Regions from separate parts of the Homo sapiens genome. Here region 2 is linked to region 1. Evidence: fine-mapped expression QTL. A gene starts in region 1. The other region holds a variant in brackets. All regions are shown on one strand. Distances are from middle to middle.

Region 1 (8,334 bases):
AAGCTGGAAGGAGCATCTATTAGTCAGTGAATGTAACAGGAAGCAGGGATTCCTCTCCACTCTGGACAGACTTCAGCCCTATTCTAGGAGGTGCGGATGGGGAACGGAATTCAGAGCACCAGAATTGCCCCTCCTTGCTTCCTTCCCCCATAAAGAAACAAAATCCAATACTTCAAAAGAAGTTGCTCCTTCCAGCTTCAGATTCAGTCTCTAGCTAAGGAGCTGGTGGAAATAGGAATGACAGTTTGCTCTCAGCCCAAGTGCTCAAGTCTGATCATGAGCCAACACATTCTTTTTATTTTGGAGGCAGAGTCTCACTCTGTCTCCCAGGCTAAAGTGCAGTGGCGCCATCTCAGTGTGATCTCGGCTCACTGCAACCTCTGCCTCCGAGGTTCAAGCGATTCTTGCGCTTCAGCCTCCCAAGCAGCTGGGATTACAGGCTCGAGCTACCACAGCTAATTTTTGTATTTTTAGCAGACACGGGGTTTTGCCATGTTGCCCAGGCTGGTCTTGAACTCCTGGCCTCAGTTGATCCTCCTGCTTCAGCCTCCCAAAGTGCTGGCATTACAGGTGTGAGCCACCGTGCCGAGCCCAAATATATTCTTTTGAAAGTTTTGGTTTCACAAAGATTTTCCTGTGAAATCTGGGAAGTATAGAGAAGGTATGGATGTAGACAAGGAGAGAACATACATAGTGGGAGCTTGCCCTGTCCTTTTGAGACACAGGCAACAGGATGTAGGCAAGGAGAGAACATACATAGTGGGAGCTTGTCCTGTCCTTCTGAGACACAGGCAACAGGATGTAGACAAGGAGAGAACATACATAGTGGGAGCTTGTCCTGTCCTTCTGAGACACAGGCAACATTGAAGCCCAGAGTGGCCAGAGCCCCCCAGATCAGAGAGAAAGGACTATAAGGTCTTTCACACCTTCCCTGGGCCTAGCAAGGACTTGGGCACACAGAAGATACTCAGTGCTTTTTAAAAGTGATGTATTAGTCTGGAATCCAATTTTCCCAAATGTTAGGTCCCTGGAGGAAAGGGCCTGACTACAGTCATCATATCCTCCACAGCACTACCCACTGCATACAAATACTCTGACTACAGTCATCGTACCCTCCACAGCACTACCCACTGCACATACAAGTACTCTGACTACAGTCATCATATCCTCCACAGCACTGCCCACTGCACATACAAATACTCTGACTACAGTCATCGTACCCTGAACGGCACTGCCCACTGCACATACAAATACTATGACTACAGTCATCGTACCCTCCACAGCACTACCCACTGCACATACAAATACTCTGACTACAGTCATCATATCCTCCACAGCACTACCCACTGCATATACAAGTACTCTGACTGCAGTCATCATATCCTCCACAGCACTACCCACTGCACATACAAATACTCTGACTACAGTCATCGTACCCTGAACGGCACTGCCCACTGCACATACAAATACTATGACTACAGTCATCGTACCCTCCATGGCACTACCCACTGCATATACAAATACTCTGACTACAGTCATCATATCCTCCACAGCACTACCCACTGCATATACAAGTACTCTGACTGCAGTCATCATATCCTCCACAGCACTATCCACTGCACATACAAATACTCTGACTACAGTCATCATATCCTCCACAGCACTGTGCACTGCACATACAAATATTCTGCTTTGGTTTACTAGTTGAGCCTGCAACCTGTGTAGCAGAACCAGAGAGGCATCCAAATTCTGGTTCCTCCCATTACTAGCTGTCTGATCTTAGACAGTAGACTTGGAATGTCTGATCCTCCTGGATGGGAAAACTTTAGTAAAGAAAGTTGGCCAGGCACGGTGGCTCACGCCTGTAATCCTAGCACTTTGGGAGGCCGGGGTGGGCAGATCACCTGAGGTCAGGAGTTCGAGACCAGCCTGGCCAATATGGTGAAACCCCGTCTCTACTAAAAATACAAAAAAGTAGCCAGGCATGGTGGCACGCGCCTGTAGTATTGGCTAACTCGGGAGGCTGAAGCAGGAGAATCGCTTGAACCCGAGAAGCAGAGGTTGCAGTGAGCCGAGATAGTGCCACTGTACTCCAGCCTGGGCGACAGAGTGAGACTCCATCTCAAAAAAATAAATTAAAAAAAGCTATTATTATAGTGTTTCATATGGAAAGGTCAAAATATTGCTAAATCTTGCCGGGCATGGTGGCTCACGTCTGTAATCCCAGCACTTTGGGAGGCCAAGGCGGGCGGATCACTTGAGGTCAGGAGCTCGAGACCAGCCTGGCCAACACAGTGAAACCCTGTCTCTACGAAAAATACAAAAATCAGCCAGGTGTGGTGGCGCCCGTCTGTAGTCTCAGCTACTGGGAAGGGTGAGGTGGGAGGATCACTTGAGGCCAGGAGGCGGAGGTTGCAGCGAGCCGAGATCGCGCCACTGTACTCCAGCCTGGACGACAGAGCAAGACTCCGTCTCAAAAAAAAAAAAAAAAAAAAAAAATTGCTAACACTGAGAATTGCGGTTGCCCGGTGCTTAGGATTTACTCTGCCTAGGACAGTCCTTCTTGTTGTTGTTGTTTGTTTGTTTTTTGAGACAGGGTCTTGCTGTCACCCAGCTTGGAATGCAGTGATTTGATCACTGTCTCACTGCAGCCTCGCCCTCCTGGACTCAAGCAACCCTCCAGCCTCAGCCTCCTGCGGAGCTGGGACTATGAGCAGGTGCTACCACACCCGGCTAATTATTATTATCATTATTTTTTTTGTAGAGACGAGGGTTCTCACCATGTTGCCCAGGCTGGTCTTGAACTCCCGAGCTCAAGAGAGCCTCCCACTTTGGCCTCCCAAAGTGCTAGGATAACAGGCATGAGCCACTGTGCCCGGCCCTGGGCAGTTCTTAAGAGCGACTCTGAGTAAGGGGCTTAACTCCTGTCTCCACTCCAGGCATCCTAAACGGTCTGCAGCCGTTTTCAGTCCTTCCCCCTCAACCCCTAAGAATCCCTCACATGATTAGAACAGCACAGCATGGGCCTTCCATAGCTCCACTTGCGCGAACTGTGGGCTCCAAGATGAAAGAAGGGAAGCTGGCTACTCATCTGGGGACTTGGTGCCTGGTACTTAAGAGCGAAGCACAACTATTCGCCGAATGCGGAACACGGCACCTGAACAGGTCGCTTTCCGTGGCCCACAGCAGCGCAGCCAATCCTGGGGCGCCTCAGTCGGCGCGCGTCACAAGTTGCTGGGCAAACTTTCTTTGAGCGAGCCCCTTCCCAACCCCGAGCCTACCCTAGCCCCTTGCCCGTGGCGCCAGCCGACTTGGAGGGCGAGACCGGGCACCAAAAACGTAGTGGGGAACGTTTAACGCTGCCAGAACCCGGTGGCGGCCGTTGCCCCCTTAAGTCGGCTCAGCCTGGCGACGTTTGTCGTGGTGACGCCAGCCCCGAAAAGGTCACCCGAGGCGGACCAGCGAGGACAGGCGGAGGGGAAGGCCTGGGAGGAGCAGGCCGCGCGGACGTGTCCGGCCAATCGCTCGCCCCGCAGTATCCCCGCGTCACTCGCAGCCCGGGCGGCGCTCCCGACCGCCGCAGACACCAGTCGCCCGAGGCAGATGGGAGAAGACTAGCCACAGCTGAGGACTGCTGCCCCGAGCCACCCTTGCCCTCCCCTGCCCTTCAGTCCCCTCACCGGTCGCCGACTGCCTCCTCAGACACCGCGCGGTTCCCACTCAGCCGGCTGCCGACCCCCGCCTCCCGGACTGCGGGACTGGGGCGGGGGAGCGAGGAAGGGGCTAACGGCGCGCGCGGCCTCCGAGTGGGGGGAGCGGGGAGGCGCCCGAGCGTCCGGCCCCTCGGGATGGGGAGGTCACGCTCCTGTCCCTCTCGCCCGCGTCGGCTAGTGGTCAGTCTGGCGCGGGCAGTGTCACCGGTTGCTGGGAAGACTGGGAGGCCAGCGAGCAGCGTACCAACCACTCAGCCTCTCCGGCCCCAGCTGGAGCCGGGAAGCAGGCGGGGCTAAAAGAGAAAGCCTGCGGGGGGACTCCACTCCCGCCTCCCGCGCGGGCCAAGGCCCCGCCCTCTCTTCTGGCTTAACCAATTCCTGCCTCCCGCTTTGTCTGTTGGCCCACCCCTGGGCCTCGTCCCGCCCAATCAGAGGAAAGGGCGCCGATCCCTGCGCGCGCCTCAGCCCCCAGCCGCGGAGTCCCGGGAGCTAGGCGGTCCACCGTCTAGTCTTCCAGCAGCTCTTCCCGCGGCCGCTGGCGGGACACAGACAGGTGTACCCTTCGGTGCTTCCGGCGCGGTAGCCGGTGCCCGGCGCGGACGGGGCCGCGGCAGCCATCCCCGTAGTTAAGTTAGCGCCTTCTTATTAAGTGAGGCCAGACTGGATAGCTATTATCTCTCAACCCTCACCACAACCCTGCCAGGGGAAATATGAGCATTTATCCTGTATTTTAGGTAAGGACCCCACAAGTTAATGATACGCCCAAAGTCGCAATGCCAGGGATAGGGGTTACTCCTGGTCGGCTTGCCAGCTGCCTCTCCATGAGCTTCCTGGTTGAACTGCCTGTCCAAATGTTGACCCTAATGTCTTCTACTAGGAAATGCTACTAGTATTCCTTTCCGGAAATGCATTTTGGGAACCTGGCCATCCTTTAGTGTGCCTATATCATCAGAACAGACGCCCAGGGATGGCCCTCAAGGTCCTTTACTGCTGTAATCTTCCTTTGGAGGTCACTTAGTACCACTCTTCTGAGCTCTGCTCAGGGGGTCCCCTAATTAGTGTACTTCGACCTGCCATGCTTGGCCTGGAAAACTCTTACCCTCTTCTCTGTTTTAATTTGTAAAACCTTAGTCAAATGCCATCTCCATAAACCTATGCTAGAATGCCCCTCTCTGTCCTCAGTCCTGGGGACATATCTATGCTGCAGCGCAACCTCCCGCATGTTGATACTGTTGTTATAGTCAGATGAATACTGTTCCCCCATAGCTTAAGGGACAGGCCTTGTCCTACTCATGAACAATTGATCCCTTGAAGCATGAGCAGAGGGCCAGCACGCCACAGATGATCAATGAGTGTTTGCTGACCCGCATATGACAACACGGATTAAGGAAGACAAATCTGGTAGCAGCAGGCAAGAAAGCTGAAAAGCAAGACACAGGATGCAGGTCTGGAGTGATCAGGGCCTGAACCAGGAAGGGATAACATTGAGAGAGACATGGAAAATGCGCTTGAAGTATATATATTTTTATTGTAAAGAATCATACACAGATAAGGTAGTATTATATAGAGAATGATTAGTTGAGGATATTTCCAGAGTCTTTAAGCCAGAGAAATGTACTAATTTAGACATTTCTGGACTCATTGCTCAGTACTGATGTCATGTTTTTAAGGACACTGACACACTTGGCTAATCCCAGAGACATGAAGAGGATGGTGACTAGGGTGGTCACATAATTAAAGGGGCTGGGGATATTTAACCTAGAAAGAGAAACATTTTTTGTGCACATAATGACTGTACACAAATTCTAACAAACTTTCATGTGAAAGAGGACTGGATTAGATGACTTTCTTCTGTGTAGCTTTGGAGGGAAAAACTCAAACAATGGGGGGAAAGAACAGGAAGCTGGATTTAGGTTTCCTATGTTATGGAAGTCATCACAGTGGGGGATGATAATTGTAACAGGAAGATGGAGGGTAGTGAAAGAAAGTTCAAGGATGAAGTTATGTGTATATTTGTCAATTAAAAATATCACATCCAAATGGTTTTATTTCTCTACACATCTACATCAATAAATGACAACTCTTAATGTGGTTCTGTAAATACTCAAAATGTTTATGGAAGGTCTACTATATGCCAGGTAGTATTCTAGACGTTGGAGATAACAGCTGTGAACCTACCAGATGAATCTCCCCAAAGTTCTGATTGTATCACATTCCTGCTCAGTAATAGTCAAAAAAGTCTGTACAATCACCAAATGAAGTTTACTCTTCTGGTGTAATATTCAAGACCCTCTTTCACCTATTCCAACCTGTCTTTCCAGTCTGTTCTCTTAAACTCTCCATTAAACTGGATCACTCCCCACCTACCTTCTACGTTTCTCTCAGCTTGGCATACACTTCTCCTGTTCCTTCACTTTTTCTTGTCTACCAAAGTCCTACTTATCCTTCAGACTTCTGTTCAAACACCAACCCACTCTCAAAGTGAAAACTATCTTCTTTCTGAAGACCACTAGTATTGTTCACCCAGAAATTCCCTAAGTATTTATTATCTTTGCAAGCCACAAGATGCATAAGACACTTACTCTGTTATTTACATCCTTTACCATGTACTTCAAGATAGAGTGTTGCTCTGTCACGCAGGCTGGAGTGCAGTGGCATGATCTCGGCCCACTGAAGCCGCTTCCCAGGTTCAAGTGATTCTTGTGTGTCAGCATCCCAAAGAGCTGGGACTACAGGCACGCACCAACATGCCTGGCTAATTTTTGTAATTTTAGTACACATGGGGTTTCACCATGTTGCTCAGGCTGGTCTTGAACTCCTGGCCTCAAGTGATCTGCTGTGTTCGGCCTCCAAAAGTGCTAGGATTACAGGCAAGAGCCAACATGCCTGGCCACCATGTACTTTAGAATAATGTGCATACTTTATTTCTCCTACTAAATTATAAGCTTGAGGGCAGAGTCAGAGGCTGGATGCACATTTCTGAACACCTGCTATGTGCAAAGAAATGGGCTGAGTATCGGAGACAAAATGGAGACTGAGTCCTTTGAGGACATGCTGAGGGATGGCAACCGCTCCCCCCGCCCACAGACCTTGCCATCCCATCATGTGCAAAGTACAAAGTGGTATAAAGGTACAACAGGAAGAATAGGGTAATTCTGCAATAGGTCATCAGTAAACTTCATTGGCTCAGCATGTAGCCAAGATTTTGTATAGGGATCTGTGGATGGAGGTGACAATGATTTTCACCTCCCACCACACACCCCCAGTGGCAGATTTCTGCAATATAAGTGATGGGACTGGGTCAGGCAGAGGGATTAGATGAACAGGAAGGGAGTGAGCATGCACTCAATCCAGACTGAGTGAGTGGAGGAGGCTCAGAATCCTGTGGAAGATGCTGAGTGGGGTGGGACAGGAATTCAAGAAGGTAGAGTGGGTGAAGGTATTGGAAGAGGAAATGCAAATAAGTTTTGGGCTAAATCAAGGAATTCCTCCTTTTCAGAAGCTTTTATTGAGGACCCACTGAGTCTGCACCTGGCTGGGTAATAGAAATATAGAGATGAATAAATTATGTTCCTTTACAGTATAGAGTCTATCCCATACCCAAGGGTGTAGGCCTCCCTCAGTGAGAAGAGGAGGAGCCATGGTGTATCAGGATTTGTAAAGACTAGGAAGTTAGAGGCGAATACGCGAAGCCGTGGGCGTGGATGACATTTCTAAGAGGCTATAGGTGGATTAGTAGGGGCTGAAGGCACCATACCTAGAGCACCAGCCTCCAAAAGGAAGCAGCTGCAGAAGGGGAAGCCAGTAAAGGCTTTGGGGAGGAAGAAGGTCAGGACACGGTCAGGTTTTAGATTCCCATGTGAGGAAGTGGTGGACAATGTCCAATGCTGAAGTAAGTCAAACAGCATCAAGGTGGTTATGTTTGGCTAGAGGGCACTGTCAGTGGTTTATGAAGTGAGACAGAAAGGAAGGGAAGTAAAAGTTATAGGCATGCAGAGCAGGCACATAGTACATGGCTTACGTTGCTGTTGGGGGCAACTGAAAGGCAAGTAAGTAGGGCTAAGGTATAGACCACTATTTCAAATCCCTGTCTGAAATGTGAGCCCAGTGGATATTCACAATGCCAAAAATCAGATGCTGAAGGCTTACTGTGTTACTGGGGGTATAAGGACTGAGAAGACTGTTTCAATTTCATGAATCTTATTCCTGTATTGCTAAATACAATGTTTGCCATTCTTCAAACATTCTAATTTCAGTTACAATAAAAATATTGGCTTCTAGAGCATGGTAGCTTCCAGTTCTTCCCCGAATAATTCCACAGATGTCAACTGACACAGTTTTCAAATACAGGAAAGAACCAAGTACAGAAAAGTGAAATCTAACAATTTAGAATAATAAGATCTGGAAAGACTGGCTGACTAAATCCTGAAATGAAGATTTTATTTAGTGTTTAAGGAATAAGGGTTTGTATTAATTGCAAGTTGCAAACATATTGTAAAGCCATATCAAAATGGATTTCAGGAAACAAGAAGATAAGCAAAAACATAAATTGAATCAATAACACACATATTAATCTTAATGGCTTGACACAGAGGATTTAATGTCTTTTAAACAGTAATCT
Region 2 (8,334 bases), 32 kb after region 1:
AGGGCACTTGAACTCACAGGTGGGAGATTGGATAGGGATGTGAACTCCAGGAGCTTTGAAGAAGAGCAAAAGGCTTTGTTTAGCCTGAGCTGCACTTGGAGTGTACCAGTATTTGGAGTTTTGTTGAGAAGAGGTCAGCCAAGGGAAGAAGAAGGTGCTGGCAGGGAGGAAGACCAGAAACCTTGGGGTCAAGGGGCAGGGTGAAGGCCAAGAATTGGAGGCACGCAATCAGAGCAGTGACCCTGGTGGCTGTGGACGCCATCTGAGGGGCCATCTGGGGCCGCTATGTGCTGAGCACTCACTGTGCCTTTGGATGGGTGCTGTCCAGGAGTTTGAGATTGCCTTCCCTGACTTGGCAGATGGGTGTCATAATATTTTATTACTAGAAAAGCTGCTATGAAAATGCATAGCATATGTTTTTGGGTGAGTGGGCTTTTTAAATTTTTTAAATTGTATGTATAGGAGGTGAACAACATGGTATTTTGATGCACATAATGAAATAGGTATCAAATTGGCCTATCATTTTGCAGTTACCTCCCCCCTTTTTTGTTGTGAAACCGCCTAAAATCTACTCTCAGCAAATTTTCAGTCTATAATACAGTATTATAGTCCTAATGAAGGGCTTTCTGAGATGACACACAGTGCTGGACTTCCCTACCCAGTCACTGGCAGGCAGGACCTGTGAGGCTCCTGGTACAGAAGAGCCCTAGAAAAGAAGGGCTATGCCATGCACGTGCGTTTCTCCTTGCAAAATCACCTAGAAGATGCGGCAGGCGGGAAGAGAGACCAGGAAGGTTAGAGCCAATGGTACTTCTAAGGAGAAGAAGACAGAAGCCGAAGAGCTCCCTCCCTCCCACCCTCGTTGTAGTAACTTGTACTCATCCAGTGCATTTCACGTACCAGGAACGCCCCTAATTAATCTCTACAACAATGTTATAGGACAGATAAACACTATGATTTCCTTTCCACGGTAAGAAAATAAGGCACAATGGGGGGTACTCAGCCTTGCTGAAGGTAACGGAGGCGGCTCCCACTAGGCACTTGGACTCTAGAGTCCAAACGCTTGAACCACTGGGCTCACAGGAACAGGAGGTGAGGAAGTGGAGGTAGTCATCTCCGAGGAAGTTTTGCTGGGAAGAAGAGATGAGAAGTGGGAATACTGTTTCTTAGCTCCTTCTCCCAGCAAAGAGGGTCGAGAAATTTTGTTTAAGGTGAGGAAGAGATGGTCAAGGTGTGGGGGACATAGGGCCCCATCCCCCATTCCTGTACTGTGTCATGTTACATGTTACATTGGCCTGTTGGTAATGAATTGTTCTGATCTTCATCTTCCTCAAGTGTGGGGCTGGGGCCTCAGTCTACCCAACACCTGACACAGGCTCTCACCAACAGATGCTCAGGAAATGTGCTTTTGCTTCTTGCCCCTTCTCTTAGCCCACAGCTGTATCAGGTGGGTTTATCAGTACAGCAGTTTGGAGGTCAGGACCTGGTGATGCACAATCCCAGGATCACATCTCTATGGGAATTCTCAAATTTCATGACGCTTCAATTTTATCGCCTATAAAATGGGAGCATAGAGGCATGTGTGGCATGCTGCTACATCAGTGGATCTGAGGTGCAGCGATTCCTGTTAGCACCTCTTCACAGCCTCGGAGTGCTTAACTCACGGAGGCTTCATCCCATCTTGCGCTAGGCAAGTGGACTCTATGAAAGGGTTGTGTTTCCCTCCTCATCTGGATATGATTTTTGACAAGCATGACAACCCCACTGCCTTTTTAAAAATTTAATTTTTAATATTTATTTTATTATGAGACAGGGTTTTGCGCTGTTGCTCAGACTGGAGTGCAGTGGTGCAATCATAACTCACTGCGGCGTGGGACTCCTGGGCTCGAGCAATCTTTCTGTCTCAGCTTCCCTAGTAGCTACGACCACAGATGCACACCACCATACCCCGCTAATTTTTAACTTAATTTTTTTTTTCTCTGTAGAGATGTATTGCAGTGTTGCCCAAAATGGTTTTGAACTCTTGGACTTAAGCAGTCCTCCCTCCTTGACCTAAAGTGCTGGGATTACAGGCTTGAACCACTGCTCTTTGCCTTTTTTTTTGTTTGTTTTTGTGACACTCGTTCTAGCCCAGGCTGGAGTGCAGTGATGTGATCTTGGCTCACTGCAACCTCGACCTTCTCGGCTCAAGAGATCCTCCCACCTCAGCCTACCAAGTAGCTGGGACTACAGGTGTGTCCCACCATGCCCAGCTAATTTTTGGATTATTTTGGAGGCGGGGTTTCCCTGTGTTGCCCAGGGTGGTCTTAAACTCCTGGGCTCAAACGATCCCCCTACCTCGGCCTCCCAAATTGCTGGGATTACAGGCATGAGCCACCATGCCTGGTTATGCTTCCAGCCTTTAGACATCTTTTAAAATTGACATATTGTAATTGTACGTATTTGTGGGGTGTGGAATCAACCCATCTGTAGATGCTCCTACTCTGCCTGGCAGGAAGAGCGGAGATGACCTTCTTGGGCTGTCAAGGTCTTGCTGTGTCAGCAGGGGGCAGCAGCTACCAGAAAGTGCGCAGAGCCTGGGCTCTGCATTTCCCTGCGCGCACTGCGTGTTGACCCTCCAAGCCTGCGTGGTCAGCCTCATGGGCACTTTGCAGAAGGGCCTGAAAAACTGCACATAGAAGGGTGGGGGTGTGTATACATCAGAATGGAACCCTATTTGTACTTGTCATGGGCCTCTTGCATTCCCGTGTGTCCTCGGAATCACCTATTGCGTGTGAGAGCTGGCTCAAGTCTGCAGCGCAGCTGGTCTCAGGAGGTAAGATGTTCGATATGTAGATGTACCCTGTTCTCCTCAGAGCTCACCTCCTTCCTTGGCCTCCCTAGTGTCTTTTCCCTCTCCCTTTCCACAGCCTCTTTATAAATTTCTCCACCCACGCCTGCTCACCATTCCTGAGCCCCAGGCTGCAACACATTGCTCATGCCCTGGGATAAGGGAACCAGGAGACCATACACTGGCTGGCAAATGGATATGTGTAGTTTACTAAGAAATGTTCACCAGGATCTTTCAGTGTACAAACACTGTGGTAGGCCTTGTTAGGAACACTATAAACTGTAATGCCATGGGTGGGTCTTCCAGGTAAGGAATGCAGGTGTGCACAGGTGGTGCAGGGCAGTGAAAAATACATAACCAGGCCAGGAGCAATGGCTCACAGCTGTAATCCCAATGCTTTGGAAGGCCAAGGTGGGAGGCTCACTTGAGGACCAAGTTTGAGGCCAGCCTCAGCATCATAGTGAGAACCCGACTCTACAAAAAGTAAAAAAATTAGCAATGCGTGATGGCATGCACCTGTAGTCCTAGCTACTCCTGAGGCTAGTGGGAGGATCTCCTGAGCCCAGGAGTTTGAGGCTGCAGTGAGCTATGATCACACCACTATTTCAGAATGGGTGACAGAGGGACAACCTATTTCTAAAAATAAGTAAATAAATAACTAATGAGGGCTGCAGTCAAGGAAAAATCTGGGAGGTTACAGCTGGGCATTGCTCTCCGAAGCTCTGAACCAGCCCCTTGGTCTCAGACTGGAGAAGTGGTGCCTGGCTCCCAATCCTCACTCTTCCCAAATCTGTCTTGAGCTCCCAGGGCCTGTGTCTCACCCATCTTGGTGTTCTCAGGACCTGGAATGTGGAAATTTTCACCAAACAGCTGTCTACTGACTTACTTCTGCTTGTGCTACCCTTGGCACAAGTTTCCTCCCTTCTCAAACTGTCAAACTGCTGCCTGTGGTTTGAGGACCAGATCATGTGGTCAAAAGTCCACATGAGCTGGGATTCAACCACAGGCACCTCTCTAGCCCAGTCTGAATTAATCCTTATCACTCTCAAGTTCCCCATGGCTCTTTTGACTTACTGAAGAATGGGCCGGTTGTTGTAGACATGTCTCTTGTTGGTCCTAAGTCCTCAGAAGAAGGGGTCAGTATCATCCTTGACTCCATCTCACTCAACACATAACACAATAGACATATGTACAGGGACCATACGTGATGCATAGTCTAAATTGGGACAGCTGAGTGTGAAAGGGGGCAGGTGTGGCCTGGGACTGACTTGGGTGATCTAGGACATATGGTCACCCTCATTCTAGGTGCTCAGTAAACATTAGTTCTTTTGAGAGCTTCGGTGTTAAAAACACTGACCACACTATTCAGAGAGGGTTGCCCTTGGCCTGCCCCTGCCACAAGGGGTTATGTGCACAGGGACAATTCACTCAGCTCCTCTGGGCCTCAGTGTTCCAATCTGCCGGAAGTGTGGACAGACTCAGTAGATAACCTCTAAGGTTATCTAAAGCACTAAAATTATACAGCTGGCAGTGGAGGCTGGGCCATGCGAAGAGTTCTGATGGATGATGTGAAATGGTGCATGTGTTTGCAGACAGGGTTAGGGGTTGGAGCATGAGAAACCTGAGCAAGTCCAGAGTTGGTTAGGACCCAGCCCGGAGGGAGCAGAGGGCTGCTGGATATTTCTGCTTGGGTGTGAGATGATCATCGTCCAGAGGTCGAAGAGCTCAGAGTGCTGGGCAGTAGTTTCTCTT[T/C]CTCCAGGCAGGCAGGTGGCTTTCACTGCACAGTGCAGATACGCTTCTTGATTTATTCAAACATAGGAGGAAGGGAGTGTCAAAATGAGTTTCTTCCCCATTTAGAAAAGAGGAACCTTCTTGGTCTAGGGTAGAGTGGAGCAGCAGAGCTGCCTTCTTCCTCAGCTGCGGCTTCATCTTCCATGCTCCTTCCAGGCCACCCCATCCTGTTTCGTCTCTATGATTTCTGCAATAACATGCAGAAGAGCTGGATCATCTTCACACTGACACAAGGAAATCTCAGTTGTGCCACGGCCTGCTTTTTTCCAGCAGGAATTCTTAAGGGCCTGGGGGCCTGGGGCAGCAGTGAAGGCTGGAGGAGGCTCATGGAGCTGTACAGGTTCGCAGGGGCTGCTGTGGTTTAGGGAAGAAGGAGAGGATGTTGCTTAATGTCACCTGCCTTGTGTGCTAACCTCAGTGTTGCTATGGTTTCAGCCTCCCACTCCACTTGGAGAGAGAGGCCAGGAGCCCACCTGCCTCTGCAGCCCACCTGCCTCTGCAGCCCAGGGTGGGAATGTAACCGTTGCTGCTGTACTCACATCTGACCTTCCTTCAGCTGATCTTCGCCCCTTTTACCAGATCTCCTCTTTCACTTTACAATTTCAGAAGCCTCAGATTACAATCCTCTCCATTCCCTCAAACAGTTGCATCTGGCAATAGTGACCATGGCTGCCCCATTGGAAGGGACTGTTAACAGAAAAGGGCATGAGGCCTTAGGAGGAGGGGAGCTACGTCTTCATAACACTAACAAAAACAAACCCGAGGTTAAATAAAGTGAACCAGGTATTTAGTTCACCTGCCACCTGGGATATACTTTTTAATTTTTTCTGGGTTGGTTAAAAATATATTTAGGGCCGGGCACGGTGGCTCACGCCTGTAATCCCAGCACTTTGGGAGGCTGAGGCGGGCGGATTACCTGAGCTCAGGAGTTGGCAACCAGCCTGGGCAACATGGCGAAACCCCTTCTCCACTAAAATACAAGAAATTAGCCGGGCTTGGTGGCGTCCACCTGTAGCCCCAGCTACTCAGGAGGCTGAGGGAGGAGAATGGCGTGAACCTGGGAGGCGGAGCTTGCAGTGAGCTGAGATCGCGCCACTGCACTCCAGCCTGGGTGACAGAGTGAGACTCCGTCTCAAAAAAAAAAATGTATATACATACATATGTATATATATTTAACGACACTTTCAGAGAGAATGTGACAGAGATAAAAGCTGAATAAGAATGACAGGAAAACTGATCTGGAAGCATAAATGATGAGGATGAGAGAAAACATCTGCAGCTAGACAAACCCAAAAGACTTGGAGAAAGTGACAAAAGTGAAGCAGCAGAGACGAGGAGAGACGTGAAAATACACGCTGGAGGGAGGGACATCAGAGACGAGAAGAGGAAAGCCTCATAGGTGACTGGGACATCAGAGATGAGAAGAGGAAAACCTCGTAGGTGACTGGGACATCAGAGATAAGAAGAGGAAGGCCTTGTAGGTGACCGGGACATCAGAGACAAGAAGAGGAAGGCCTCGTAGGTGACCAGGACATCAGAGACAAGAAGAGGAAAGCCTCGTAGGTGACCGGGACATCAGAGACGAGAAGAGGAAGGCCTCGTAGGTGACCAGGACATCAGAGACGAGAAGAGGAAAGCCTCGTAGGTGACCAGGACATCAGAGATGAGAAGAGGAAAGCCTCGTAGGTGACCGGGACATCAGAGACGAGAAGAGGAAGGCCTCGTAGGTGACTGGGACATCAGAGATGAGAAGAGGAAAGCCTCGTAGGTGACCGGGACATCAGAGACAAGAAGAGGAAAGCCTCGTAGGTGACCGGGACATCAGAGATAAGAAGAGGAAGGCCTCGTAGGTGACCGGGACATCAGAGATGAGAAGAGGAAAGCCTCGTAGGTGACTGGGACATCAGAGACAAGAAGAGGAAAGCATCGTAGGTGACCGGGACATCAGAGATAAGAAGAGGAAAGCCTCGTAGGTGACCGGGACATCAGAGATGAGAAGAGGAAAGCCTCGTAGGTGACCGGGACATCAGAGATGAGAAGAGGAAAGCCTCGTAGGTGACCGGGACATCAGAGATGAGAAGAGGAGAGCCTCGTAGGTGACCGGGACATCAGAGACAAGAAGAGGAAGGCCTCGTAGGTGACCGGGACATCAGAGATGAGAAGAGGAGAGCCTCGTAGGTGACCGGGACATCAGAGACAAGAAGAGGAAGGCCTCGTAGGTGACCGGGACATCAGAGATGAGAAGAGGAGAGCCTCGTAGGTGACCGGGACATCAGAGACAAGAAGAGGAAAGCATCGTAGGTGACCGGGACATCAGAGATGAGAAGAGGAAAGCCTCGTAGGTGACCGGGACATCAGAGATGAGAAGAGGAAAGCCTCGTAGGTGACCGGGACATCAGAGACAAGAAGAGGAATGCCTCGTAGGTGACCGGGCTGGTAGCACAAATGATACTCATACGTGCCAGGACTCTAGCTGAGCCCGAGTTAGATTTACAGCCCTCCTTATCTTGACCTATCTCCAAGTTCCTAGGTGAAGTGGCTGTTCCCAGTGCTGCCTGAATCCTTCAGCTGACTGCCGGCCAGAGGTTTATGGCTCTGATCAGGAAGATCACTGATGAGTCTTGTTTCAGACAGGTCCCACCCTCTGTTGGCTCCAACAGTGTTTGATATCCAACAATAGGAAACCAGATTCTGTGAGTGAACTCAAGCTATAGGCAGGACCCGTGGAAGGCACAGGGGAAAGGAGTTGTCTTCCCAGGAAATCTTGGATTTCCCCCTGGAAGTAGGTATCCTATGTACCAGGTGGGAGAGGACTGAGGAGAATGTGCCTTAGGACATGGCTGAGAGCCTCTCTACAGCTCTGCACCATTAATTCCGTGTGGATTTGTGTACCTGGAGCCCAGGGAAAACTAAAGCCCCTCTAATCAAAATGGTGTTTCTTTCTCGAGGTCCTGCTGGTTGTGAGAGATTTATGCTTCTGTGTGGGATATGTTCTTTCACCTATAAACATCAAAATCCCACAGTGAAATGGGAACAGAAAAATGTTTATTCCCCACCCAACCTTCATCTTAAACATGGTTCAATAGGAAGGTATCACTCAGAGACCCTGGCCCAGGGAGGATCCTTCTATGACTCTAGTTCCTAAAATGTGTTCTCTAGATCAACAATATAAACATCACCAGAAACTTGTTAGACATGCAAATTCTCAGCCCCCTACCTCCACTCCTCTGCCCACAGCAATACTGCATTAGAAATGCTGGGAGTGGACCCCAGCAGCTTTCAACAAACCCCTAGAGTGATTCTAGTGTACCCTGGAGTTTGAGAACCTCATCTTTCCGGCAGGTGGAAGGGATGTGGCAAACAGTGCACAGGGGTCCCAAGACTTGTCCCTTCACTCACCTTTCACTGGCCAAAGCAAGTCACCTGGCCTTGCTCCCCCATTGCCTTCTGCCATGATTGGATGCTTCCTGAGGCCTCCGCAGAAGCAGAAACCACTATGCTTCCTGTATAGCCTGCAGAACTACGAGCCAATTAAAACTCTTTTCTTTATAAATGACCCAGTCTCAGGTATTTCTTTATAGCAATGTGAGAACAGACTCTTGAAATATTTGCACACCCATATTGAAGCAGTATTATTCACAATAGTTAAGAGGTAAAAGCAACCCAAATGTCAATTGACAGATAAATGGACAAACAAAATACGTTATATACAA

What was found.
Region 2: its variant is fine-mapped to the expression of ZNF672 in whole blood (TOPMed, PIP above 0.99).

Annotation. Positions count from the first base shown.
Region 1 is chr1:248,833,898-248,842,231 of GRCh38, reverse strand. ZNF672 (zinc finger protein 672) reads right to left here and starts at 4,008. Exons shown (of 4, transcript NM_024836.3): 1 at 3,681-4,008. RefSeq lists enhancers at 2,686-2,765, 3,106-3,375, 3,073-3,572, 3,573-4,074 and a silencer at 3,666-4,065.
Region 2 is chr1:248,801,530-248,809,863 of GRCh38, reverse strand. It overlaps LOC124904577 (a long non-coding RNA gene), which reads left to right and starts at 2,346. Exons shown (of 2, transcript XR_007067008.1): 1 at 2,346-2,815. RefSeq lists enhancers at 4,402-4,611, 6,020-7,219. The variant T/C (reference allele first, on the strand shown) is at 4,583.